4 separate regions of the Homo sapiens genome follow, and regions 2, 3 and 4 are each reported to be linked to region 1. The links are microRNA targets in miRTarBase. Many come from high-throughput screens and were not tested one by one. Region 1 holds a microRNA gene; each other region holds the end of a gene's coding sequence.

What was found. The annotated mature microRNA hsa-miR-548az-5p reads CAAAAGUGAUUGUGGUUUUUGC and lies in region 1 at 4,217-4,238, opposite strand. An mRNA with a match to its seed (bases 2 to 7 or 8) in the 3' UTR can be bound and repressed. Matches are read on the target gene's strand: a 7mer-m8 pairs with bases 2 to 8, a 7mer-A1 pairs with bases 2 to 7 and ends in A, and an 8mer does both.
Region 2: the mRNA of PPP1R3F is a reported target of hsa-miR-548az-5p. Seed matches in the 3' UTR shown: 7mer-A1 at 1,119-1,125.
Region 3: the mRNA of GPR176 is a reported target of hsa-miR-548az-5p. Seed matches in the 3' UTR shown: 7mer-A1 at 4,164-4,170.
Region 4: miRTarBase lists PACRGL as a target of hsa-miR-548az-5p. Seed matches in the 3' UTR shown: 7mer-m8 at 1,625-1,631, 8mer at 1,746-1,753 and 7mer-A1 at 4,473-4,479.

What each region holds. Positions count from the first base shown.
Region 1 is chr8:119,322,304-119,329,427 of GRCh38, reverse strand. It overlaps MIR548AZ (microRNA 548az), which reads right to left and starts at 4,257; the gene lies at 4,163-4,257.
Region 2 is chrX:49,286,169-49,293,292 of GRCh38, forward strand. It overlaps PPP1R3F (protein phosphatase 1 regulatory subunit 3F), which reads left to right. Exons shown (of 4, transcript NM_033215.5): 4 at 1-1,922. The coding sequence ends at 922. Among named protein-coding and RNA genes, the nearest start is that of GAGE10, 14 kb to the right of the region's middle. RefSeq lists an enhancer at 5,807-5,856.
Region 3 is chr15:39,795,106-39,802,229 of GRCh38, forward strand. It overlaps GPR176 (G protein-coupled receptor 176), which reads right to left. Exons shown (of 3, transcript NM_007223.3): 3 at 3,903-7,124. The coding sequence ends at 6,027. Among named protein-coding and RNA genes, the nearest start is that of FSIP1, 16 kb to the left of the region's middle.
Region 4 is chr4:20,726,034-20,733,155 of GRCh38, forward strand. PACRGL (parkin coregulated like) reads left to right here. Exons shown (of 9, transcript NM_001258345.3): 9 at 1,252-6,524. The coding sequence ends at 1,308. KCNIP4 (potassium voltage-gated channel interacting protein 4) reads right to left here. Exons shown (of 9, transcript NM_025221.6): 7 at 6,648-6,752; 8 at 5,973-6,035; 9 at 2,573-4,096. The coding sequence ends at 4,049. Among named protein-coding and RNA genes, the nearest start is that of PACRGL, 29 kb to the left of the region's middle.

The DNA.
Region 1 (7,124 bases):
CTATTTTCTTGTATCCATTAACCAATCCCATTTTCCACACACCCTGCCCCACCCTTCCCAGCCTCTGGTAACCATCCTTCTACTGTCTATGTACATGAGTTCAATTGTTTTAATTTTTAACTCCCACAAATAAGTGAGGACATGTGAAGTTTGTCTTTCTGTGTCTGGTTTATTTTACTTAACATAATGACCTCAGTTCCATCTGTGTTGTTGCAGGTGACAAGATCTCATTCTTTTTTATGGCTGAATAGTACTCCCTTGTGTATATGTACCACATTTCTTTATCCATTTATCTGTTGATAGACACTTAGGTTGCTCCCAATTCTTGACTATTTTGAATAGCACGGTAATAAACAGGGAAGTGCAGATATCTCTTAGATATACTGATTTTCTTTCTTTTGGATATATAACTAGGAGTGGGATTGCTGGATCATATGGTAACTCTATTTTTAGTTTTTTGAGGAAACGCCAAACTGTTCTCCATAGTGGTTGTACTCATTTACAACCCCATCCAAAGTGTTCAAGGGTTTCCTTTTCTCCACGTCCTTGACATTTGTTATTGCCTGTCTTTTGGATTAAAGCCATTTAACTAGGGTGAGATGATATCTCATTGTAGTTTTTATTTGCATTTTGGAAATAGAGATTTTCTACATATATTAAAAGTAAAAACATTTTCCAGTGATAGATGGTCCTAGTTATAGTCATACCCTTTTCTAGATTTTCTTTGAAATATACAGTTTCATGAATAAAGGAGAATTATTTTGAAAGTGAGTTTCACAGATATTTTTCATGGATGCAGTGTATTTCAGGCTGTGTCTTGAAAAACGTCTTCTCTATATCATACTGTAAAATTCAAGTCAATGTAACGTGTGTGTGTATATATATAAAATTTATTTATTTATTTTTTCTTAAAAAAGTAGGCTCACTTCCCTGAATGCTGTAAAGGGCTAATTTAAACCTCCACAAAAGTGTTTATGCAGACTGCCTTTTCTGAGGATTCATTTTAGCAGGTGGTATTTTACACACTAATCATAATATATGTGCTGAACTGACCCCACCCCCACCCTGCCCTGAAAAGCACAGTTCTTTAAAGGAATGATTACTTCACTTTACTTTGTCCTTAGCTGCTTCTTTTAAGACAGGACATTTCCAGGTATAGAATTCAGGAGAGTAAAAGTATTTTTGATAAAGTTTAAAGGGATTTTCTCAAAGTATGTGATTTTCTCAAAAGTAGGAGTATTTGATTTCTCATATAATTCTCCAATAATTCTTTTTAAAAAATGTTTGTTCAGAGAAAAATTTGGAAAGCTAGAAATTACAATTATCTTTTAGTGGAAAACATTGTTTTCCTATACAGTAAACTTTTATTATTATTTTTTTTTGATGCAGTCTCGCTCTGTTGCCTAGGCTGGAGTGCAGTGTTGCAATCTCAGCTCACTGCAATCTCCTCCTCCCGGGTTCAAGTGATTTTCCAGCCTCAGCCTCCTGAGTAGCTGGGATTACAGGCATGGGCCACCACGTCCAGCTAATTTTTGTAGTTTTTAGCAGAGATGGAGCTTCACCATGTTGGCCAGGCTGATCTCGAACTCCTGACCTCAGGTGATTTACCTGCCTTGGCCTCCCAAAGTGCTGGTATTACAGGCGTGAGCCACCTCGCCCTGCCTCCTGTAGGATAACCTGAAACTGTTCTTCCTTTCAGAACAATAGACGGATTGCATTGGAAGTCACCACCAGTAAGATGCCAGGTGCTTTCAGACTTGGTAATACCAGGCATGTGTTTTATACAAATAAAAGAATTTCTATTTTACTTCCTAGAAAAAAACTGAGTTTAATAAGTCAATGTATAAGTTATACAGGGAAATGATAAACTTCTCTTTGAAATTTTTGGGAAACAGAACAAATAAATTATGTAGTGAAATAATTCTACATTTTACAGACTCTTTTAAATCCTGACTTTAATAATGACTCTCAGATGGCATCTGTGATTCACAGATGAACCTGTAGAGTCTAAAGAGAAGGCTATAGTGATTGGGGAGGTTATTTACTCAGCCCTTGCCAAAGTTCCGGTCCCAGTTTGCTTCCTGAAAAGAGTGTCTGAACCAGTGACTATCAATGCATGAGGACAAAGGGAAAAAAATGTAGGGAGAGAATCTCACTATATTTAGAATCTCTCATACGAGTTTTGTGGGTTATTTTTTAAAGTGTACATGATCACAGATTAAAATCTTTTGATATGAAAGATAAGGAGGTGTATGGAGATAATATGTAATGTAGAAAAAAATACAGTTAGACAGATAACCAACTAGCTGTATTGGATCAAACCTCTCTCTGAGAACAACCAAAATAGCTGAATAAAGGGGAAAGAAAAGAAAACAACAAATCGTTTGAAGATATCTGAGATCTTACTGAGGCTGCCAAGATTTGTGAATTCAAGATTCCAGGGAGAAAGAAAGGGCAGAGAGCATGACATTAGGCATCGCTTTTCTTTCAGGGCATTTGTAAATTTGAAAGCAGCAGAGAGGCTGAAGAGCTGAACAGAGATTTTGGCTTAATCATGGGACTAGAAGAATAGGAATTAGAATTTGAATCTTTCAAAGCTACACCAGAGTTGTGTGGGTAAACTGGAAACAGACAAACTCAAAAAAGACAGAAGCTCAGCTTCAAATTAATTCAATCCTCAAAGGGAAGCAAAACAGAACAAAGATCAAAGCCAAGGATATCCTATCTCTTTCATATCAGTTACCAGAAAGGAAGTGACCTCTCTTACCCAAGGCCAATCCCTCCTAGGGCTCTGCCTTATTTATCCTCTCTCAATCTTGTGTTGTTAGTTATCTTTGCTCTCTCTCCTGTACCTATAACCACACCATAAGGCATTTTTATAATCCCAAATTCCTTATTCTTTTGGCATGCATCGTGTCATGAATTCAGAGGGATTTGTTTCTTGCTACACTAATCTTCACAGAAAACCTTCCTTGAGTAGAATTAACTAGCACATCAGCTAGGCATATGGACTTTTTCTGGGCTTCCTTTTATTTTTCCCCCAGATGATTTTCATTAACACATTTCAGGCTACTGTAGATTGCTTAATATGTTAATTAAACACATTAACTTTCTTGTCAAGAATCTTGCTTTTTGATTACTTACTGTTGTGCAAGCATGCTACATTGCAGACCCTTCTAAAAAAGCCCATGAAACACTGTTGGGTAGGGTCCACGAAATTACACATTTTAGCTGAATGTCTAGCCAAGGGTTAAAGTCAATATTCAGCCTAAGTTGAAGTTGAAGATGAATATCACTTCATGGCATGAACTTCTGGGAAAAAAGAATAAATATTAAAATTTCCACATTTTATTTTAATTTTGTCATTAAAAATGCTCAAAGTCAAAGTGTATAATTTGACATTACTGTACAACACAATGATTTCCCAGCCTTCTCAGTGGAGGTCAATACACTAAACCTGTGTAATCCCAATACAGTAGACTCTCACTTTCAATTTAGATCAAAGGAGGAGCAAGCTATTCTGTTTTGAGCTCTGCCATTGTAAATATTGATGGTGAAATGGACCCTAAGATAAGATTTTCTGGGAAGAATTGCAACATATAAAGCATATATGGATATTAATTTTTACTCCAAGTCAATTTTGAATATATTTGAAAGTGAATGTTTAGGTAGTAATACTACACTTTGAATGATATGCAATCCTTCTAACTAATATTTTTATGGTGATAATAATTTTGGTTGTCTCATCCTTGATCATCAGCAAGTTTAGAGTTCCGGAGATGATAAGTAAGTCTTTCACTATTCTTCCAAAGAGCAAGCTTGAATCCCAAAACAAATTTTGTAAAATTTCCACGTCAAATCAAATTCTGGTACATTTGTGTTGTGGGTAATTTCTTATTGCATAGTATCCATACTCTCAACACCTTCAATATCATTTACTTTGTTGATCAGCATATGCAGTACCAAAGGAACTTAAAGTTGCCAAAGCACACAGGCCGAGTCTGTCTTCCATATTCTTATTATTGGTTAGTTGTTTTATATGAATGATTATAAGATGGCAGTTTTGATAGACCAGTCCCATGCTACACCACTGAAAGTGCTCTTGCCAGAGTCACCAATAATTTCTTTAACTGATCCTCAACTGACTTGATCTCTGTGCAGCAAATTTATTAGGTTGGTGCAAAAGTGATTGCAGTTTTTGCCATTAAAAGTAACAGCAAAAACCACAATCACTTTTGCACCAACCTAATACAATCTTGAATATTCCCTACTTTGTGAAATATTTTTCCCTATTATTATTACATTTTTTAAACTTTCTCTAATTACTCTGCTTTTTCCCAGTTTGTTTTGAATTTCCCTGCTTTCTGCTAATCTCTTGTATATGAATTTTCTTCCAGATTCTAGCCTAGATAGAATTTTTATTTTTTTGCTTCACGTAGCCTCTCTTTGAGGATTATATTTTTCATACTCACAAATTCAATTATATAATTTCAATCATGATTCTCAAATCTATATCTTCAGCCAAGATATTTCTCCAGAGCTTCAGATCTAATTTGTTAGTCACCTAGTAGATATCACCACATAAAATCCTATAAATATCCCCCTTTAGTGTCCTTTTTATCAGTGAAATTACCACCATCTACCTAATTATAAAAGCCAAATACCCAATAATTTTCCATGACTTGCCCTTTTCTCATTTACTTTTTATATGTAATCAGTTATCAAGCCTTGTGTTTCTATTTGATAAAATGGCTCTCCTTTTATTTTTTGCTTACCTTCATCTTTTGTTATTATCATAGTTCAGGCAATCATCTTTTGTCTTTAGTCTCAAAACACCTTCCTTTCTGGTCTTCCGTATTTTGAATTCATTACTTCCAAAAATGTTTCTATTGGAGCCAGAGGGATGGTTCCAAAAATCCAGTCAGATCATAGCATTATCCTGATTAAATATCATCCCCCATTACATTTAGAATAATACTTTGGGGGTTATTTATAAACTGCCTTCATTTAGCCACTCAATCCCATCTTTTTTCCTTCTCTCTTGTTTTCTCTGCTCCAAACATTCTGAAATTTTCTTTCTTTCTCTGAATAAATCATGATTATTCTTACCTCTAGGCCTTTGCACAAATAAAAGTTTTGATGAAGAAGTTTCAAGTTAATGGTTTGTGAATGTAAGACAATTCTATTTTTTTTTTCAATAACTGTTGCCAGGTTTGCTTTGTTGAATTCCTTCCCTGCTGGGCAACAAGAAACAGTGATATCTCAGTTTGACAAATAACTTTTTATTTACTTCTGATTAAAAATAGTCTTAATTTGGGGTAGTAAAACTTTCCTTTTTTAAAAGCTTGTGCAGGGCTTCTGTATAGTATACGTATTGAACAGGGTTTATGTGTCGATATGGATAGGGTTGGATGTGTTGTTGGCTTTCTCCCTCTCTTTATCTTTTTCCCAGTGCCTGTTGTATTGATGATGATGTAAAGGGGTGTGTGCATGTTGTGGGTGGGGGGGTGTGAATGTGTGTACGTGTGTGCATGTGTGGATGTCTATGTAGTATGAAGGGGGAGATGGTAGAGGAGTGGGATGTCTTTGCTTATGCTGTATTAGTGATAGTGAGGTGTTATGGTTGAATCACCTAATACACACTGTTTCCTTATGTCTGGTGTTGTTACTTGGTCTACACTGAGAGAAGTCAGATGCCAGGTTTAGAGTTATAATAAGATTGATCTGATTTTTGGAAATATCCTTCTGGCTAAGTTGAAACCCATTAGGAGTAATCAATTAGAAATATAGGCAGTCTTCTAAGGCTGACAAAAACAATAAATTGGGGAAGGACTCCGTATTCAATAAATGGTGCTAGGATAACTGTCTAATCATATGCAGAAGAATGAAACTGGACCCTTTCATCATATACACAAATCAGCTACAAATGGGTTAAAGATTTTAATGTAAGACCTCAAACTATAAAAATCCCAGAAGAAAACCTAGGGAATACCCTCTTGACATCAGCCTTGGCAAAGAATTTATGGCCAAGTCCCCAAAAGCAATTGCAGCAAAAACAAAAATTGTTAAGTGGGACCTAATTAAACTGAAGAGCTCTCCACAGAAAAAGAAACCATCAACTGAGTAAACAGACAACATATAGAATGGGAGATAATATTCCCAAGCCATGCATCTGACAAAGGTCTAATATCCAGTCTATAAGGAATTTAAACAAATCAACAAGCAAAAACCAAATAACCCTATTTAAAAATAGACAAAGAACGTGAACAGACACTTCTCAATAGAAGACAAGTGGCCAACAAACATGAAAAAATGCTCACCATCACTAATCATGAGAGAAATACAAAGCAAAACCATGAGATACCATCTCACACCAGTCAGAACAGCTATCATTAAAAAGTCAAAAAACAGCATGTGCTGATGAGGCTGTGGAGAAAAGGTTACACTTAGACACAGTTAGTGGGAATGTAAGTTAGTTTAGCCACTGTGGAAAGCAGTTTGGTGATTTCTCGAAGAACTTAGAACTACTATTTGACCCAGTAATCCTATTACTGGGTATATACTCTTAAGGAATACAGGTCATTCTACCAAAAAGAGACATGCACTCATGTGTTCACCATACTATTCACAATAGCAAAGACATGGAATCAACCTAGGTGCCCATGAGTGGTGGGCTGGATAAAGAAAATATATGTATATCACATGTGATATATATATATATCACATATATATCACATTTGATATATATATATATATCACATATATATATGATATATATATCTCATGGAATACTACACAGCAATAAAAAAATGAAATCATGCCTTTGCAGCAACATGGTTGGAGCTGGAGGCCATAATCTTAAGCGAATTAATCAGGAACAGAAAACCAATACCACATATTCTCACTTATAAGTGGAAGCTAAACATTGAGCACAGATGGATGTAAACATGGGAATAATAGACACTGTGGATTACTAGAGAAGGATGGGGGGTTGTGGGCTAAAAAACTATTGGCTACTATGCTATCTACTGGGTAGTTATATAGCCTAAGGAATGTTCATCACCATACTGCTTACAATAGCAAAGACATGGAATCAGCTTAGGTGCTCATCAGTGGTGGACTGG
Region 2 (7,124 bases), not on the chromosome of region 1:
GTCTCACCTGAGCCGCCTACGGGCTGCTGTGGCTGCGGGTGGGGCAGGGGGTGGTGGGGAGGGCTCCACAGATGGAGGGATGTCCCCCAGCCATCCCCTGGGCATACTGACGGACCGCGACCTGATCTTGAAGTGGCCTGGCCCTGAGCGGGCCCTGAACAGCGCCCTGGCTGAGGAGATCACGCTGCACTATGCCCGGCTGGGGCGTGGCGTGGAGCTCATCAAGGACACCGAAGACCCTGATGATGAAGGGGAGGGTGAAGAGGGGCTCTCTGTCACACCCTCCAGCCCAGAAGGGGACAGCCCCAAGGAATCGCCTCCAGAAATCCTCTCCGGGGCCCGTTCTGTGGTAGCCACGATGGGAGATGTGTGGCTCCCATGGGCAGAGGGCTCAGGATGTGACGGCCCTGTGGTTCTGGGTACAGAGGGTCAGTTCATTGGGGATCCTGAGAAAGGGATGGGCAAGGACACCAGCTCTTTGCACATGAATAGGGTGATAGCTGGGGTGACTGAGTCCCTGGGGGAGGCCGGGACAGAAGCCCAGATAGAGGTCACCAGTGAGTGGGCAGGCAGCTTGGATCCCATATCTGGCAAGGAGCCAGCCTCTCCCGTCCTTCTGCAGGGGCAAAATCCCACCCTCCTCAGTCCCTTGGGGGCCGAAGTCTGTCTCTCTAGTGTAGCCAGGCCTCATGTGAGCTCCCAGGATGAAAAGGATGCAGGCCCAAGCCTTGAACCCCCAAAGAAGTCTCCCACCCTAGCAGTCCCTGCAGAATGTGTGTGTGCACTGCCTCCTCAGCTCCGGGGGCCCTTGACCCAGACTCTGGGGGTCCTGGCCGGGCTAGTGGTGGTCCCTGTGGCTCTGAACAGCGGTGTGTCCCTCCTGGTGCTTGCGCTGTGCCTCTCTCTGGCTTGGTTCTCATAGGCTCTGCTTGTGGGATCAGCAGAGGCTTAAGATGGGATACATGGCCTGTGCAGTGAGGGGACCTGGGTCCTTTGCTTCTGAGAATGCTCAACTGAAAGAGAGGCCTTCTCATCCCCAAGCTCTCCAGTCAACACAGGGCTCCCTGTGGTGACACCAGTGGAGATGAGGGAACGGGTAGATGGTGTGAGTGAGGGGAACTTTTAGAGTGGAACTGGGCATGTCCTCCGCCTACCCCCCGAGCCTGTATTTATTTTTGTATAATTCTCTGGATGAGGGAGAGTGGTCGTGAGCTGGTCTTGGGGCACAATTACCCAGAGATATATTTATTAACAGCCAACCTGTGCAACCTGCTGGAGCTTTATTTTTAATTTAATTTATATAGAGTACCTATTATTATATGCCACAATAGAGCTCTATGAGAAACAGTGTCTTGCGGTGTAGTGTTCTCCTGTTTGGGCATGAGTGTGCAGGGTGGTCACTTTCTGTGGGAGGATCACAGTGGGGAGTTGGGGGTGGGACGTGGTCGCCTGCTGCTGCTTCAACATGTCTTTCCTTGAAGATGTGTGTCTCCTCGTCTCGTGGTCCTAATCCATATGGTTCTTTGTCTTTTCCACATTCTGCCTGTGGGACCCTACAGGTGTGTATTTGGATGGTGGTGGTGGGAGCCAGGGAGGAAGAGTGGCAGCCACATGAGGGTTTGGTGTCAGTCACATGGTTGCAGTGGTAGCTGTGGTCTCCTGTGGATGTGGGGACATCAGTTGTGAATCAGCCACAAGGTTTTGAGGTTACTGAAAAAACAGCCTTTGACACCAGCAGGGAGACCCCTTAGTCCCTGAGATAAGGAAGGCCTCAGAAAGGAAAGAGGAGTTAATGTACTGCAGTACTTGGTAGCACAGTTGCTGTCCACAGACATCACATTTCTACTAAAAACAGGAAGCCCAGAAGCTTTGAAAGAAAGATATATATTTATTGCATGCAAATAAAAAACTGCTCAACAAAATAAAACACCACATATTTATTTACTTCCCTTTACAGCAAAACCTATTGGAAGAAATATCTATACGAGCTTTCTTCAGTTCTTCTATGATGCCTTTCTGAAATAGCCCCAATCAGATCTTTTTTGCCCAACCATTTCAGCAAAACTGCTGAAGATATTCACATTGTTATAGCCATGGTTAAGTCTCAGATGTCATCTTACTTGGGATATTGGCAGCATTTGACATAGTTGATCATCTCTACCTTGCAACCCTTTCTTCACTTGGTTTCCAAGATACCACACTCTCCTCATTTCCCTTCTTCCTCACTGGCCACTGTGCAAAGCTGTCAGTTCTCTTGAAACTGCTTTGTAGGTTCAATGCAAATCCAACCACAATTCCAATAGAGTTTTGCCTGTGTGTAGATCATGACACATTAATTCTTAAATTTATGTAGAAGTGCCAAGACTAGCCAGGACACTGATACTTATTGTAATGGTATATTCAGATGGCACGATATTTTTGCAAGAGTAGACAAATCGACCAATAAAAAAACAGTGATCTCGGAAACAGTGTAGACACACTCGTGTAGACACAGAACTGGTGACCAAGGAAGTGTGTTAGACCAGTGGGGAAATGATTGGATTTTGAATAAATAGAACAATTGGTTACCCGCATTGAAAAATATGAACTTGGATCCCTACTTTACAACACAAATAAAAATAATTCTAAGTGGGTTTAAAGCCTAAATGCGAAGGGCAAAACCAAAGCGCTTTAAGAATACAATGAGGCAGGGCCGGGTGCTGTGGCTCACTCTTGTAATCCCAGCACTTTGGGAGGTCTAGATGGGCGGATCAGGAGTTTGAGACCACCAGCCTGGCCAACATGGTGAAACCCCGTCTCTACTAAAAATACAAAAATTAGCTGGGCATCCACCTGTAGTCCCAGCTGTTTGGGAGGCTGAGGCGGGACAATCGTTTGAACTCAGGGGGCAGAGGTTGCAGTGAGCCGAGATGGCACCACTGCACTCCAGCCTGGGCCACAGATCGAGACTCCATCTCAAAAACAAAACAAAACAAAAAACAAGGCAAAACACCTTCGTATACTCATGGTAGCAAAGTTTTTCTTCATCACGACACAGAAACAACCATAAATGAAAATTACGAAACATTCAGTGACCTTAAAATTAGGAATGTCCATTGATCAAAAGACACCATAAAGAGAGTGAAAACCTTATGTAGTAGGTTGCTATGAATAAAAGCAAAACAAAAAGGAGTGAAAACACAAGTGAAAAATTGGGAGGAGATAATGGAATCACATATAACTGATGAAGGGCTCAAACCTTAGATGCCAATAAGCATCTAAATAAATTGTGGTATATTCGCAGAATGGAATATTGTATAATGAGAATGGAAGATCCATAACTGCACGAAAGCATACAGATGAATCACAAAAAGCCAAAAAAAAGCTTCCACACTGATCCATTTATGCAAAGTTCACAAGCAGGCAAAACTCATGAATTACCACCTAAATGGTGACATTGTAAAGAAAAGCGAGGGGCTGATTACCAGAGTCAGGATAGTGTTCACCTCTGGCAGAGGGAGGGATGTGGCTGAGAAGGGGCCCAGAGGACTTCTGGGATGTCAATAATGGTTCACTGCTTGACCTGGGAGACTGTTCATGGATGTGCAATTTATTCATCATCATTAAAACAGACTTATGGGCTGGGCGCGGTGGCTCACACCTATAATCCCAGCACTTTGGGAGGCTGAGGCAGGCATATCACTTGAGGTCAGGAGTTCGAGACCAGCCTGGCCAATGTGGGGAAACCCCGTCTGTACTAAAAGTATAAAAATTAGCCGGGCGTGGTGGTGGGCGCCTGTAATCCCAGCTACTTGGGAGGCTGAGGCGGGAGAATCACTAGAACCCAGGAGGTGGAGGTTGCAGTGGGCCGAGATCGCACCACTGCACTCTAGTCTGGGCAACAGAGCGAGACTCTTGTCTCAAAAAAACAAAACAACCCCCCCCATACATTTAGGTTTTATACACTCTTATGCAAAGACCTCACAAGTGAAGCAGAGTGCAGTGGGAAGTGGGAGTAGCATGAGTGTCCGAGACTCCTGCACACAGGCTTGCAGAGACTCCAGCCTCCTGGTGTGAACCACAGTGTAGGCGGCCTCCTTCCTGCAGAACAATCCCTGGGCTCCGGGTCTTGCCTTCTGTTTGTGGAGATCGACTAGTGGGGAATCCTCTATCGTGTGCCCCTGACACCAGCCATAGAGTGGGGCCTCTTGGGATGGACAGGACCTGCCCATATTGTCCTCAGATGTTGGGGTCCATCTCCCCTCAGGCCTCATTCACACCCACAATAGCCCAGGACACATGGGCTTTGGGGCCTGGTGGGCCTCATAAAAGCCTGGAACCCCGAGCCCTGGTGGTGTGACCTTGGGCAAGTCACCCGTCCTAGACCAGCCTCAGTTCCCCATTCATAAAGGGGGCTAATGCCCATCAAGCAGGGTAGGTGCAGGCTTTGGGGAAAACGTTGTACTGCCCTCCTCCTGAGCCCATGTTAGACAGGTCTTATAGTCAAGGCAGGGTAGGAGGGTGGACAGGAACAGGGGCTGGAGCGACACAGTTTGGGACTAAATTGCCCAGGGTCACACAGTGGGCAAGTGGCTTCAGCCCTCTGTGCCTCCCTTTGCTCGTCTGTCATCAGGGTAATAACTTTTCCTCCTCACAGGGTTAAGTGAGGAAGAGGTGAGATGACTCTTCAGTCACTGAGCAGTGCCAGGCACAGGGCAAGACTGAGTACACGCCCGTTGTCATTCCCCCTGGCTGGAGCTCTTGCAATCACTGTTATGCCCCCACCCTGCCCTCTCCCATTAATCTGTTAATGTGGTGAATTACATTGATAAGTTTGTACATCTGTCTTTTAAAATTGAGACGCAATCTTGTTCTGTCACCCAAGCTGGAGTGCAGTGGCACAATCACGGCTCACTGCAGCCTCAACCTCCTGGGTTCAAGTGATCCTCCGACCTCAGCCTCCCGAGTAGCTGGGACTACAGGCACATGCCACCATGCCCAGCTAATTTTTATATTTTTACTAGAGACAGGGTTTTGCCATGTTGCCCAGGCTGGTCTCGAGCTCCTCAGCTCAAGCAATCCACCTGCCTCAGCCTCCCAAAGTTTTGGGATTACAGGCATGAGCACGTCCAGCCTACTTTTCTCTCTCTCTCTCTCTCTCTCTCTCTCTCTCTCTCTCTGTCTCTCTCCTTTCTTTCTTGACGGAGTCTCGCTCTTTCTCCCAGGCTGGAGTGAAGTGGCACATTCTCAGCTCACTGTAACCTCTGCCCCCTGGGTTCAAGAGATTCTCCTGCCTCAGCCTTCTGAGTAGCTAGGATTACAGGCATGCACCACCATGCCCGACTAGTTTTTGTGTTTTTAGTAGAGACAGGGTTTCACCATGTTGGCCAGGCTGGTCTCGAACTCCTGACCTCAGGTGATCCACCCGCCTCAGCCTCCCAAAGTGCTAGGATTACAGGTATGAGCCACCACGACTGGCCCTACTTTTCTTTTTTAAAATTTTAGTGGTCAGTTACTAGATAAACTCTATTTTTATCACCCATTTACAGGTGAGGGCCTTCCATGTTCTTATCAGCCCTGAGCTCAGCCCTTTGCCGAGGCCTTCCTGGTCCACCTCTCCCTCCTCCTTGTGACTAGGGCCAGCATCTTAGTCTCACAGTGGCCCCTTCTCTCTCTGTCCTCAGCCTTCAGCCCTGCTATCACCCACCCGCATCCTACAACCCCTCTGCTTCCCCTCTTCAGTGTTTTTTGTCCAGGATGAGACCAAGTCCAAACCTGAGCTTCCTGCTAAGTCAAAGTGACTTTTTCCTTTCAGTCAGGGAAGCCTGACTAAAGCGTCTGGTCCCACGGTGAGGTCTTGGTGTCTCCAACAGCGCAGCCATGGACGGCCACCCTACAGTGATACCTGCCTTTGCCAGCAGGGGGCATCTTATCTCCAAGACAGGGAAAGCCTCAGAGAAGACGGGAACAGTCTTAAACGTTAACTGCTTGTAGGGTCACAGGCCTCAGGGTGCATGAGCTCCAGGCTGGGTGTCCCTTGGAGCCTCCCTCTCTGCATGTGGACAGGTGGGGGCAGCCGAGGGCCTGGCTTTTACTGTTGTTCGGGGTCTTCTACAGATGACTCTCCTCCTCCTCCTCTTCCTCTTTTTCCTTCTACCAGGAACTCATTTCCATCACTAAAGAGAGGTTCTCATATTTTTAATCCTCTTTATCTCACTTAAAGGGTCCATTATAGGATTTTTCCACAAGATGCACTGGCTCTGAGGCCTGTGCCCAGGGCAGGTCAGGCTATAGATTGGCCAGGTTGGCCAGGTTGGCCAGGTTGGCTGAGGGCACCAGCCTGGATCCTGAAGACACTGGAGACAGCCCCAACAGAGCCTGGGGCTCAGGAAAAGGCCACCAACCCCCCAGCCAGATCCTGGCCAGCTGCCAGCTCCGCCTCCACCCAGTCCTCTCCCAGGGCCTGAACGCCGGGTCTAGAAGCTCCAGGCCTGGTGGTCTGGGGGAGACACGGGCCGGGAGGATCCCTCGAAAGAGGAGGCAGGAGACAATCTCTGTATGGCTTGAGGGATGCACAGCTGTGGGGTGAGGCACGCCCCACCTAGCACAGGCCCACTGACACTGCTGTGCAGCTGCAGGCCCAGCTGCTGCCCTCTATGGGGCTCAGTCTCCTCACCTGTGCAATGGGCATCATTACACCCCCAACGTGCAGGGGATGCTCGTGAATGGAGGGGAGCCGAGGCGTTGAGAAAGTAGATTTGGCTCAAGAGGAGGAGGAGCAGGTCAGGGTTGGTGGGGAAGGATGGATGCGGCCACCTCAGGCATGGCCGGGGCTGCCTTCCTCAAAGTGCTCAGGACAGTCAGGTGGGGGAAGTTCTGAGTCTGTGAGCAGAACCGTGGGCTGGGGACCAGGTGAGGTTGTCTCTGTAGTGTTCTGGGGTGGCCAGCCACTGTGCCACTATTCTTTCCTGTTGGTCCTCATCTCTGCCCACGGGGAGCCCCAAGATGCTCCAAGAGCTCACAGTGAGCTCATGTGAGTTACTGTGACCCACATGCAGTCATTACAGCCATGTGTCATCATCACAACAGCCACCAGGTTAACACTTGGATAATTTATCCAAATAACGACTCACCTGATGTGATTT
Region 3 (7,124 bases), not on the chromosome of region 1:
ACATGTGACTTAGCAGCTGAGTGACATCATCAGGTACATGTTGCCCTGTCTGTACTGTGCTGTCCTCTTTGTCACCTTTATTCCAAGGCTGGCTCCCCTAACTGTCGTCATGATTTACTGTAGAGTCTGAACTTAGAATTGGTAACTAATCCAAGGAAGCTTCCTTTCTTGTTCCTTAACTGTAGCCCAGGGAGATCCTAGTACTCTACGGTTACTTTCAGATATTGAAGAGTCTGGTCCAGTTTTAAAGTTCACGATGATGCCTAATGTAATGCTCTTCCTCTCCCCCAACTCAGGCTTGATCTGTAGCCCAAGGAACTCACCATGAGTGGATGAGAATCCTCTCCTCCTATAGCTTGATGTTTCCTCTCGCGGGTCCCCCTTCTGCCTCCATGGAGTTAGGAGGAAGGATGGGCAAAAGGAGGAAACATCTTCTCCTTGATTGGTGCAGCCATTGTTCTCTCATTGGTACTTGGTGGGGAATCTCCAGAGGTGTGGCATGTGGCCCTCAGTGTACACATCTCTGGTGCCAGACACAGTGCCGGCCTGACCACTTTCAACCCCTCTCAGCATCCACCCACAGCCTCCTCCAAGTCTGGCCAGGGGCCAGTTTTCAAGTCGAGTTTCTGTGGTGTCTCCTTGACATTGAGAAAATCACCCATTCTCACCATGCCACATGATGGGTGTGCAGGATGCCCTCTCTGTTTACTCTGTCATCTCTCTCCAATTCCTTTCTCACACCTCCAAATTCAGAGGGCCGATCAGCAAGCCCATCCCTGAAGCAGATATCCAGCTGAGGAAAAGCAGCCAGGCTTGCATTTTTCCACCGAGCAGATGTCTCATGACCTACACAACTCTCTTTAAATTTCTTCTGTTTTCTCCATAAATAACCTGGGTTTGCATGGAGGACAGAGGTAAGGGTTGGGGAGATGGTCCCCCCCTCCTCAAACCACCTCAAACTTTTGGCTAACCCAGCGTGTCTCAACCTTAGCACTACTGATATTTTGGACCAGATAATTCTTTGTTGTGAGGGCTGTCCTGTGCATTAGAGGGTATTTAACAGCATTCCTGGCCTTTACCCAGTAGATGCCTGGAGCATGCCCCACTCCTTGACAATTACGACCAAAACTTCACTGGCCTAACCCCAAGAGTCCCCTCTGTTCTCCTAACACCTAGGTTTTGAGACCCAAATCTAGGAAGAGATTCAAAGGATATCTGCTTTCCCTTGAGGCAATGAAAGCCTCGTCCCCTCCCCTGAGGCAATGCATGTGAATGAGAGGGGCCAGGCAAAGAGAGAAGAGAAGTTAGATGCACAGGTAATATGGTTAATATAGCAAGAGCATCATGCCGTGTGTTCTATTTTCTCACCTGTTGCCTTAGAATGTATACCACGTGTTTATTCTAGTAACTCCTTTGTGTGTGTATTACATTTTGTATATGGACTGCAATGAATACACATATAAAGAGAAATTTAAGGGAGGCAGAAAGATTTCATCACTAAGTTCTGATCAACATAGCTGATGAATAATTATTCTTCAAGCCCAACACACATGCCTGGAACTGCGTTTCTCAGTATTGAACTTCCCCTCCAACTTTGGAACTTACACTCCTAGTGCATTAAAAGGAGGCTTGGGTATTTGAAGGAGATGGATCAAAGGCCTTGCGTTTGATGCCTTTTAACTCTGCAGGAGTCATTCCAAGGAAATCAATAAGAGCCAGCAATAACTCCACTGAAAGCAAATCTTTCATCACTCATACACGACAGAGACCGCACCCCTGCTCCAGGTGCTGTATCTCTTATGTATTCATTCACCATTCACTCATTTCAATCTGGCAATAAGAAGCCCCTGAATCCCCAGGACATGAAGTGCTATAGAGGTTCGCATAAACAATGCTGGAGATCACAGTTTCATTTCTATACAGGTTTCCAACCTTTATTCTACTGATCAACTGATACCTTTGGCACAAATGGGGGAAAACATGGGTTGAAACTGAGGCTAAGAAAAAGGGAGCTGTTTTATCTTCTGAAACCTCATGTATGGAGAATCTAAGCTCATTTCCATTTATTTTATACGTCTTGCACAAAAAGGCTTTTGATGCTGCCCTGGGCATTGATACTTATTTCAATTCCTATTTTATTCACAGATTCCCAGGTTATTTACCATGACTCATTTCTCTTTTGGTTACAGAGCTCTAATGTGGCACACTAGTTGGGATACAAATCTGCTAAATATTTACAACTATTTGGGGAAAGTGCATCACTATGTTATGGTATTATTGACACTGTATGTTGAGACGTTGGTACACTACACTATGAAAGCATTAACCCTTTCCCTCCACCACAATTCCGCCCGTAATAAGCTTTTTTCCTTGTGCATCTCTGATCCAACCTGTAGCAGCAGCTCCATATGCACAGAGCCACCTCACCTCGGGCAGGTCTGCCAAGAGCTCAGCAGTACCCAGCTGGGATGCAGCAGTGGCTTTCCTCCTCAGATGAATCAGACTGGTGCTTGAGCTCCAGATGTTCATTTAGCCCACCAACTAACTTGCAGTTTCTTTCCTACAGATGGGGCCACTTTGGATTTGCATATCTGTCCTTAGATACTCTATGTACTCTACTCTGTTCTTACTTCGATACGGTCATTGAGTGCATTCATATTCAGATATGGCCTACACGTTAGTGGCCAAGGTGAACCTTCTTTTAACATCCTATTTTTTTCAACTGAGAATTGTCTAATTAAGAAATACTCTGGCTTACAGAGTTATTTTTTCTTCAGGGAATCTAATAGTCCCTTGGCATTATGTATTACCCCAAAGTATCATCATTATGAAAATTAATTACTGTTAGAATAACTGGGGAAAAGACCTACAGTTTTCTAAGAATATTCCGCATAAGCTGCCTAGCCACTTTATTTTTTTATGTAACGTATAAGTGCTAACACTGATATAGCTGTACTCTGTGCCAGGCATTGTGTTAAACAGATTATCTCATTTAATCCTAACAGGTGCTCTATGCCTCACTTGGACTCCCTGAAAACAGAGCTTGAGATGAGGGCTTTGTGCAGGTAGTATGTTTGGGAGGTGATCCTTGAGGCATGAATGAGGACTGCAGAAAGTGAGTCAGAGAAGGAGAAAGTAGAGTCAATATAAGGCTGCATTATTGAAGTGCCATGGTGGGCCACAGGGACTTAACTCTGTGTCAGTGACCTCTTGAGAACTGGACAGAGGCCTCCCACAATTGTCCAGCAGGACAGGAAGCAGGGGTATTTATCCAGTGGTTCCCATGCCCCACAGGCCAAGGATTATTCCCAGACACAGGGAGCTCTGCTTGCAGGGAAGCGAGTAGATGCCGCCAGCAACAGCCCACTGCAGACACAGCTAAAGTCATAGGTGAAATATGTGAGAAGGGGCAACAGAAGCTTCTGACACAATTATTATCCTCCCATTTTACAGAGAGAGAACTGAGGTACATGGAGGTTACTTCATCCTCCCAAGGTCACAAGGCTAGTCAGTGTGGGGCCAGGATTTAAACACAGGCAATCTGACCTCAAAGCTCATGGCCCTAACTGCTGTGCTCCTGACCTCCCGCAGGAGGGATGATGACGGCTGCACTCCAGGCTTCCCTTGTGTAGCTCCGCCTAGAGATTTGGGTGTCTATCGCCAATTCAATCTGGAACCCATCTTGGTGATATTTTTTCAACTGTTGCAGTTCCTCCTTAGGGAATTTATTTTCTTTTAGTTGCAACAACACAAGAAAATGCTACTGAAATGCCACATCTGCATTCATGAGAAAAAAAAAATGAATATCTTTCATCAGAGACCATGTAGGAAGAGACAGGTTCCAACAGTATATCACTTGAGGGAGAGAAAAGGGGGAGAAAATATAGCTCATAAAACTTTTCTTGAGTTCAGAAACTGCTTTTCAATTTTTTATTAAAATGTTATTCTTCAAAGAGTATAGAAATACACCTGGCAATGACCTGTTAGTAGTCAGCCATCTGCTTCAAACATATATAAGAAACATACCCAACCAGATTCTGCCTCATCAAAATTTATTAAGTTGTACATATACAGTATATTATCAGAACAACACCAAAGTGGCTACACTTGACAGATTCTCCTAAAGTGGACATAATTTTCCTAGAGATTATTATTCCCCTTGATAAAAGTTGTAATGATTGTGAAAGCTTTGAAAGACAAGCTTGAAGGGCCACAGCATTGACTATCAGGGCAAGGAGCTATAGATGCCATGCACGCAGGGCCCAGAAGGCAGCAGAGCCGCAGGAGGCTGTGGCAGCCCCGTTTCTGCTGTGAGCAAACAGTGCTATGAGGAGACCAACACAAAGAGGAAGGTGCTTCCTCTCCAGGGGTAGGGTCTTTGGGTTCACATTCAGAAACACAAGACACCACACCCAAGAGAAGAAAGGAAAACAAAACTCCCTACAGGGTCTGGGCTCCCTCCAAGAGACGGGGCCAGTGTGGCCAAAAGAGGGCACGAGTTGAGATGTGGAAGTTTGCTGGTGAGGACACCCACTTCCCTTCAAGCTTGCTCAAGGCACCAGACTAGCTCCTGTAAGTACCAAGAGCAAGAACACAACACTCTAGAGAAAAGGGCAGAGCTGGCGCTTGGTTTGTCCTCACTAACAGGGAAGTATTATCTGCGGTTCTAATTCAACCTGGTGAAATCCACCCCAGAGGGGTCCCAAATTGCTTGTGAGGCTGATGAGTTGAGGACACTGCCCTCCCTCTTCTACCCAGTCTGGCTCTACAACGACAGGGAAGGAGGAAGTGAAGAGCTCATCTGGGTCAGATGTTGCCTTGGCACTCTACAATGATTATTTCTCCCTGTTCTGTTCCTCCTCTGTGTCCAAAATTAAGAGAGAACCGCAGCTGTACAAACAGACTGAAAAGGAGACTGGCCACACCTGAGTTCCGGAGTCTTCCTCGGAAGGAAACCATCTTTGTCAGATTCTTGCCAACCTTTTGGGCAGAGTCACCTTTCCAAATCAGGCCTTTTCAGTTTGATGTTTCCAAAGGACCCAGCTTACACTAACTCTCCATTTTAAAAATACCTTTTAATTCCTAAAGTTTGCATAAGATGATTTTTTCAATATATTTGACTCATACTGGTTGTTACATAGCACCTTTCATGTGAGATCATAGGGAAGAAAAAAAAACTACAGCGCCATAGGCATCTCTCAGGCATCTCCCCCGTAAGCTTCTCTCTCATTTGTTGAGAAAACACAATTTAAGGTGAAAGACAGAGCGAAGACTTTTCAGTGTTTTCCAGCCAACACTGACCCTGACTGGAGGGTGCAGGTGTATCTCTCTGAGGCGTTGGTGATGCCAAGGGAAAATCAGAATTATCAAGGACAAAATATCTCCCTTACTCCCGGGCACATCTATCGCCATGTGTACCATAGGTGAGGAATCGTCATTCCTTACCTACATCCCAATGAAAGGGACGAAGGGTATCAGGAGAAACAGTGAGTCATATGACTGGGGCTTCCAGAGAAACAGTGTAAGACACCAAATCCCTACCTTCTCAACAGAAAATGTTTGACATGTTTAAGTTCATCAAACAGGCATTTTCTCTGGAGCCACCATGCTCCATCATGATCTTGGAATTCCCTTAGAGTGCTCCTGCTCCCTGCTCCTGTGAGCTCTGAAAGTCTTCTCTCTGTGTGTTCTCTGCAGAGCCCAGGGAAGTGAGGCATCCTCAGAAAGTGCACATGGGGTACCCACCTCAAGACCCATTCAAAACTGCCCAGCTCTTGTCCCCACAGAGAATAATGTGGACTTCACTAAGGACATGGATCACTGAGATGGATACATATACTCCCTCAATAAAGAGGACACTGGATTTTATGTAGATTTCCCTATCATTCAAAAGCATCTGGCCCATATTGGAGGAATCAACTCACACTGAGTTGCAAGGAGATCATACAATCACATGGCCACAGCATTCCCACACTCTGGTGGGAATATGGAAGCTCCCCGTTGCTTCCAAGAATTTACAATCCTTGCTAGGAATCCACCTTTGGAAAAATGCTCACTTTATTGTTTCTGCTCATCTTCCGCTCCACCCTGCCTACCTTGGGCACCTTTGTCTGGATCAGCTCTTCTGGGGTGTTGCCCAAGGGGGGAAGCAGCCGCTTCTTGCTGTTTCGGGTCTCTGAGAGCCACTGAGGAGGCAACTCAAAAGGCCCAAAGCCAAACTGCAGGGAATACTTATCAGGGAATGTTTCAGGTTCCACAGGGGCTGCCGGTGCCACCTGGGATACAGAGTCCACTGTGCTCAGGGGTGGGGCAGAGGGCGCAAACTGTGGCCCCTGCTCTCCCTCCAGGCAGGTGCTAAATATCTCCTTGGCCTGGAAGTCAGCTGAGCCAATGTACTTGGCCTCACTCTCTTCCTCATCCTCTGTGGGCTTAAAGATCTGCTGCTGCCCAATGTGGAACATCTCCAGGAGCTGGCTACCCGAGCGTATGCTGGGTTCCAGGCTGGCCTCAGCCATGCCACTCCCTGTACTGACCACATTACGGCGACTGTACCGGTGGTGTAGTTGCACCAGGGTCCCTATCAAGCACTTGCGGACAGATTTGTTCACAGTAAGAAAGAGAACAGGGTTTGCCAGCAGGGAGACTTTGGGCAGCCAAACAGCAGTGAGCAGCAAGAAGACGGAAGTGTCAGGGACATTGAGCACAGTCTGGTAGACGACCAGGGTGGCATAGGGCACGCTACACAAGATGAAGACCATCACCATGGAGAGCAGGGTGGCGTGCAGCTCGGCCTCCCGCTGGGAGGCATAGGGAATAGAGATGGTGTTCTGTGGGGTCCGGAGCGCTGCTATGATGACCTTCTTCTTCTGGCTGGCACTCAGGGCCCGTCGGATCAGTATCAAGAAGAGGAACACCACCACCACAGGCACAATGACCGTGGTGATGTTATACACCAGAACGTACACCAGGTGGCCCAAGGAGTTGCTCCAGACTTCCGTGCAGGTGGACGTGGCATAGATGTCAGCCACATTGGTTACTGCAAACACAGGGACACTGGCCACCACTGCATGGGCCCAGATGTACATCACCAGTTCACGGGACTTGGCATCAGATATTTTCCTCTC
Region 4 (7,122 bases), not on the chromosome of region 1:
TAAATAATGATGCCACAGCTTTTCAGTGGGAAACGCTCCCTAGGTGATTTTCCATATCCTGTGGGCCGGTATGGGAAATGGGACAAGTAGAAAGGGACAGGCCAAGCATGTTAGATTTTGTGGTGGGAGTGGAGGGGGTGTGGAGGAGGAGATAGTATATGTGTAAATAAAGTTTAGAAACGGCACATTAAGATTTGGAAGGGGAACACAGAGCTGTAGTTGAGTAATCCAGGATCCCAGAAATATCAAATTCTTTTTTTACTACTCCATCTTACTAGCTTTGAATGTTGCTAATACAGAATTTTAAAAAAGATTTTGTAGCTACAAGGGCTGTTATTATTTATTTTCTTCTGACTCCTCTTGTTTCCTCCTTCTTATATCCTACATAATATTTTAATAATGATTGATGTAATTGGAATAGAAAATTTCCTATTGCAATTACATACCAAAGACTTTCTCTTGGCTTATTATTGTGCTAATTTCTGTTACTTCGTAATCCTTCATGAAACTAATGAATGTTCTTCTTTCTCTTCTAAGACCTTAAAAGCTTATATATCTCTTTCTTTCTTAAAATATTAGAAATTAAGTCTTTAAAAATGAGTGTTCTCAGTTGTGGTTTCTCATTTCTTGGGACTTGTGTATATCAATGATGGAACTATTCAACTTTTGGATACAGGAAAATATCTGTTACAGATAGTCACAGTGTTACTTTCTTAGAACTGATCTGCCTTAAATTGAAATCAGTTCATTCTTAGCCTGATTTGATTTTTTTTCTAAGTGAAATGCACATTTATTTTGGAAAAGGCACAATGCAAATCCTGATCTTTATTGATTGTGTGGGAACTTATTACATGGCAGGTACTCTGCTGAGTACTTTTTAGACATGAAACCCATTTACTCTTCCTAGTCATCAGAGGGAGATTTTGTTGTTATCTCCCTCTAAAGATCACGGAACTTAGGCACAGAAAAGTAATTAGTCCAGGTTTGACGAATAAGTGACTAGTAGATGCTGAATTCAGATACTGGTAGTCTGGCTTCTAACTACTTCTCTAGTTAGATACTTCAAAAAAAGAGAAAGAAACAGCCTATATTTTATTTAACTCAGCAAAAAGTCCTTCTTATTTCATCATTTTGTTCTTACCCCTTTTTGTTTGAGTTTTAGATACTTTCTAGGCATATTCCTGCAAATATAATACCTATTAGGGGAACTCTGCATGATACTAATGATGCTCAATTTTTTTCTGTTGACAGGGGAGCCTTAGCATCATCAAATCTAAAATTCCAACATACTGCTCCATATGCTGTTGAAGAAGGGAGCCAACAAAAATTGTTTTTTCTACCTGTTGACGTGTCAAGCACTAACTGTGGGTACTCATTTATTTTATTCTTTTGTAAATCACAGCCACCATTCATTATTTACTAGGTTAAGATGAATAGACACTGAATCAAAGTTATTCATCAACAAAAAAGAACAGTTACTAATGGAAAGTTATTAAAATAAGTTCTATAAGAGTACAATTTTGAGGTTTATTTTTTGTATTTTTATTATTTGTGCGAAGAACCATTATTGAGTTTGCAAGATAAGATGTATTTGTATTTTCTAGTGTCTTTTTATTTATAACAACACTTTTTTGGCAATCAGTTTGTAGCTGTGCCCTTATTTTTATAGATAGTTTGCCATTTCTTGGGTTTAATGTTTAACAAGGCTATAGAAGTTTAAAATAGTGGACAAATGTTTGTGAATACACTTTTAAAAAATTGTTTTAAAAGAGAAAAGCGGTCTTGCTTTGTTGCCCAGACTGGAGTGCAGTGGCATAATCATAGCTCACCGCAAGCCTCAAATTTTTGTGCTCAGATGATCCTTTTCATCTCAGCCTCCTGATTAGCTGGGACTATAGGCGTGTGCCACCATGCCCAGCTAATTTTGAAATTTGCTTGTAGAGATGGGATCTCACTCTGTTGTCCAGGCTGGTCTCAGAATTCTGGTGAGTGATCCTCCCACAGTGGACTTCCAAAGTGCTGGGATTACAGGTGTGAGCCACCATGCCTGGCCCCATGAATACACTACTAATATTATTTGTAAATATGTATTTTATAATGTACAATGCTTGGAAAATTTTCAGAGTATTCTAGTTTAAAAAATTTTTTCTAATTCTGTAAATTCTATTACAAGTATGTTGTTTATTACAACTCATTACAACTACCTAAATTTTAGGTGTTAACTGTATTTAAGTAAATGTGTTATTTTTGCATTTCATAGCCAGAAAATACTGATGTTCACTTAAAGATATTCAGCAATTAAAATGTTAAAACTTGTACATGCATTCATTGATTTTGTTGTGCTTATGTTTAGCAATTTTTAAGAAGCTTTTAAAATATAATATAGACATAGTTCAGAATTTTGATGTAATAGAAGCAATTCCCTCTGGCTACAACAGCTGCCTGCCTGCTGGCCTTGCTTTTACCTGTTTTCATTGCATTGAGCACCATCCAGAGCTATCTGCCATCTAGAAAGTACTGTAAGATTTAATTAATTACAAAATTTCTTGGAAAAGACCTGTAACATAGACAGTAGAGTTATAAACATTTTATTTTGCTTTTATTTTTTCTTTTTGAAATACAAAATGTGCACATTGAGTTTACACAAACACGTGATGGCAAATTTCAGTGTACATGTATTGTACTACTCTTAATTTCTACACTGGTGATAGCAGGGCAGCTTTCAACATCCTATCTCTACACCAGAATAGATACCTGATTTATTGTTGCAAAGACAGTTGCAAATTTCCTCCTTCTGTAGCCTCTTGGTCTTTGTGATATTTCTACAAAACAGGGACGATGTGTGTGGCTTTAGTAATGTGGCAACTTTACAGTTTTGGCTAAGATGATTAAAAATAATCTGAATTATGATGAGCTAAATCATACTGTAATCTGGATTAGTTGTTGAGCACTTATTTTCTACTAAATCTTGGTAGTAGTTGTCAATGTAATGGAACCACTGGTGCTTTCAAAGTGAATTTTGCTTGCTAATTTTGCTTGCTGTTTGTTCTTAGTAGACAGTGGGGTAGTCAAGGTTTCTTTCTTTGTCCCTGAATGGCTTGTAATATAAATAAACATGCTGTAAGGAAGTCAGGGGAAAGAGGACAGATTTGGCCTTTAATGCTGTTAGGATTACTTGTTATTAAGCATTACTATATACTGGAGGATAGATATCCTGACCCTTTGCATATGTCTGTAAACATCCTTGTTTTGTTTGATGCCTTCTTCAACTTCCACTTAATGATTGATACTAATGATTGATACAATAGAAAACAGCCTGTAAGAAAGATTGAACAAATCCAAAATTATTATATAGGCCTTGGCTGTAACATATTATGGAAAATTAAATGCTTATTAAAATAAGTTTTATTAGGCATATGCTGATATCTGATAATAAACTAATTTTTAAATGTTTAATAATTTTTAAATGTTTAAAAATGCCAGATAAAACTAATTTCTAACAGAAGGTGGGAAGGCCATAGAAACTGGAACTATGTGTTTTTTTAATTGTTGTAATCTTGTTTCCTTAAAGTATATAAATGGAATTTAAATGGAATTACAGCATTCAAACATGAAAATTAATTTAATTTCTGGAAATTAAATGCAGATGTCACTATATTAGAAAACCATTCAAAATCCTAGGACTGAATACATACAAATGAGTAGCAAAAAACACTGATATTTTAAAATCACTGATATGTGAAAGCCTCAATAATCCCATGGCTAAGGAACCAATAAAACTATATGCCAGATTCTATTACTTTTGAATATTCACAGAGTATGAAATGAGTTAGACCATCCCCTGAACTCAGTGGCATTATGAAAAGGATGCAAATTTATAACTGAAAGCTCAAATCTTTTGGGGATTGCTTTATATTAAAACAAAGCTTGTTTGCATAATATGCTTCAGTGTCAAGCTGAGCAATCTATGCTAAAAGTGGTAGCTCCAACTTTAAGGGTGGTAGAATAGTTCACATTTGTCTGTTGGATTCAGGATCTATTTGACAAGTTAAATCACATTTTCAAAGAGCTGCATGGAGCGCATTATGTTTTCATCCTGTAAGGGAGAAACACAGAGCGATTAAATTCAGCATATCTGCAAGGAAAAGTACACTATTTTGCCCCTGAGTATTGCCTCCTCCCATCAACCACCTCAACCACCTATGCCAAAAGCTCAAATATTAAGTGTTTGCAAATGTAAATGCCATTCTATTCTATCCATTTTCCACATAGATGACTATGAAGGACCCATTTTATATTTTGTGGAGTCTATTGACCAGGCATTAAACCACTTTATTTAAATCTTTACTTGGTATTAATAGAGGATATTTCTCAAATCATAATGCCAAAATGGAAACTACAGAGGTGCAGAGGTGTGTCAAAGCAAATGAGAATTTTGGCATTCTATGTAGATCACAGGCCAAATCACACAGACTTTTATACAGGTACAAGGAAAATTTGTGTGTATGAGCCAGCAGTTCATGAAGATTGGAGGCTGGCGCATAGGAGGCAGGGTGGTGGATTAAGAGGTAACATGTTTGCAGTAATCATCTCTCTTTCTGTCTGCTAGTTATGGCTAAAGCTGCATGGCCTGAAGGAGCCTTTAAAAATGAATGGTCTCTCAATTACAGAGAAAGAATTGGGGAGCAGAAACCACTGCTCAGTGGCTGTGTTCAGTTTAGCATATTCTTTAGAAATGAGTTAGGGGACAGACTTTGGGCATTATTGGAGCACTTGTCAGTTGCATGTGAATAGCACTTACTGAGCTGTTTATGGTAGTGGTAAATGGTGGCTGAACCAATAATGGCTTCCACTGCTAGAAACCAAGTAACATCACCGTCAAGCAGCTTAATGTCACCAAATTAATTCTCTCAAAGACCACTGCATGGAAATCCAAGTTGAGAGACAAGCAGACATCCAGAAAAGTAAGAACAACAATTTAAAAATAAAGAGAAAAACTAAAGAAACAACGGATTTCTTTGTTTTCAGGATTATTTGAAAAATTCTTTTTTTCTTTTTTTAGTTTTGAGGCAGAGTCTATTTCTGTTGCCCATCATTCTGGAGTGCAGTGGCACAATCATGGCTCAACAGGGATCAAGTGATCTTCCTGCCTCAGCCTCCCAAGTAGCTGAGACTTCAGCCACGTGCCACCGTGCCCAGCTAACTTAATTTTTTTTTGTAGAGATAGATAGGGTCTTGCTATGTTGCCCACATTGGACTCAAAATCCTGGCCTTAAGTTATCTTCCCGCCTCAGCCTCCCATAGTGCTGGGATTACAGTTGTGAGCTACTGTACCAGGCCTTAACAATTTTTAACTGTGGTTCTGCCCACACATCAAGTCAAATAATTCTAAGTAAGCTAACACTGGTTTCTTTGATAACAGGCTACTACCTGGAGTTCTCTTCAGAGAAAATTTTCCACTGTTTATTTTTTGTGACTGAAGACCATTAGTGAGTTCAGTCAAAGAGCCATTTCTTGTCCACATACACTAAAACAATGACTTTTCTCTTAGAAATCAGATAGAAGCTTGGCCTGTTGTGATGCCATACTTGGCTATCTAGGAATTCTAATGCTGTGGAGATATGATAGATAATATATGAGTGATGCTAAGTTTTGGCAAAGAGCAATTCAAATCTCATGTATGTTTTATCCTCCATGAATACTCTCTAAGGAATTTGGGAATCAACACAGTACATGTACAACTTTTGTATCCCCAGGGTTTCCTCCATAGCCTGACTCAGTGGGCACTCTAAATGTTGATTATGTAATTGGTGCTTGTTTTCAGAGTGGTAGGCTTATGCTGCATGTTGTAGAAGTGGTAAACTTAGGCATATGATCTCTATATTTCGCCCAGTTCATGGTAGCTAGCTGCTAATACTCAGTTTAGCTGTTATGATAGCTGAATTGATAGTTATTACACTTTCATTACTTACTTTTTGGCAGCTTTCAATGAACTCATCTATGGTAACAACCCCATCTTTATTTTTGTCCATTTTCTGTTCAGGAAGAAAACAAAAATTGTATTTAGACTTATCCCTTAATACCCTCACACCTGGACCAAATGAGCTGAAGCTGATAAAAAGAAAACCTAGCTGCTTATTTATTTCACGTGGAGGAACTGTTTCAGAGCAGGAACCAGCAGTTTTTTAGAGATAAAAATGATAGGGCCAAATGCTTCTGGCTTTTCCCTTTTCAATATAATGTGGTGAAGATGTAGAGTCACTCTGTCCTAGGTAAAATCCCACCTTCTAGATGTGACAGAGCTTGCGCAATTTGCTGAAACTTTCAGAGCTTGCTTTTTGTCTCATCTGTAAAATGAGATTAATGAGGATTTATAGGATTCTTGTAAAAACTGAATGAAAACAAAACTTGTGAAACATGAGAACTGTTTAGTGTTGTATCTTGGATTTAGTGAATGTTCAATAAATGCAGTTATCAGCATTGTAAATTCAAAACCAAAGCTATTAAATTAATAGGATGCTAAATACTGTTTTGTTTCAGTAAAAATTATTTTCCTTTGCTCTCTTTTGAATCATCGTGGTGCATGGCAAACATCAGGAAATTTTCTCCTAACTTCATGCCCTCTTGACTTCTGTTTTAATTCCTACCTGAAAAAATGTTTCAACGTGTTGTCTGGGAGCATCTTCTTTGAGGACAGGATATGTACATTTACCCATCATATCGTATATTGCTTTCATTATATCAAGCATTTCCTGAAAAATAAAAGGCACTCACGTGAGGCTGCACACATGTATGAAGAAACCAGTCTAAGAAGCTCTGACAGATTTTTCCTACTCAATTTTAAATTTTTGACTTTTTGTTTGTTGGATTCTTTGTTAGACGACTGTTGGTTGTCCCAAAGGAAAAGGCAACAAACAGCTTTCTGCCTTAAGAGCAGAAGAATCAGAATTTAAGAATGAATTCTGATCTCTTGGTTTCAAAAGGAAGCAAATTTCCATGTATCTACCATAGTCAGGAAAAGAATATGCTGGCTTAATGTTTGGATTTCTATAGACTTTAAGTAGACTATGTTTATTTAATTGCATTATATATCTTATGTGTTGATCATCAGTTTCCATCTAT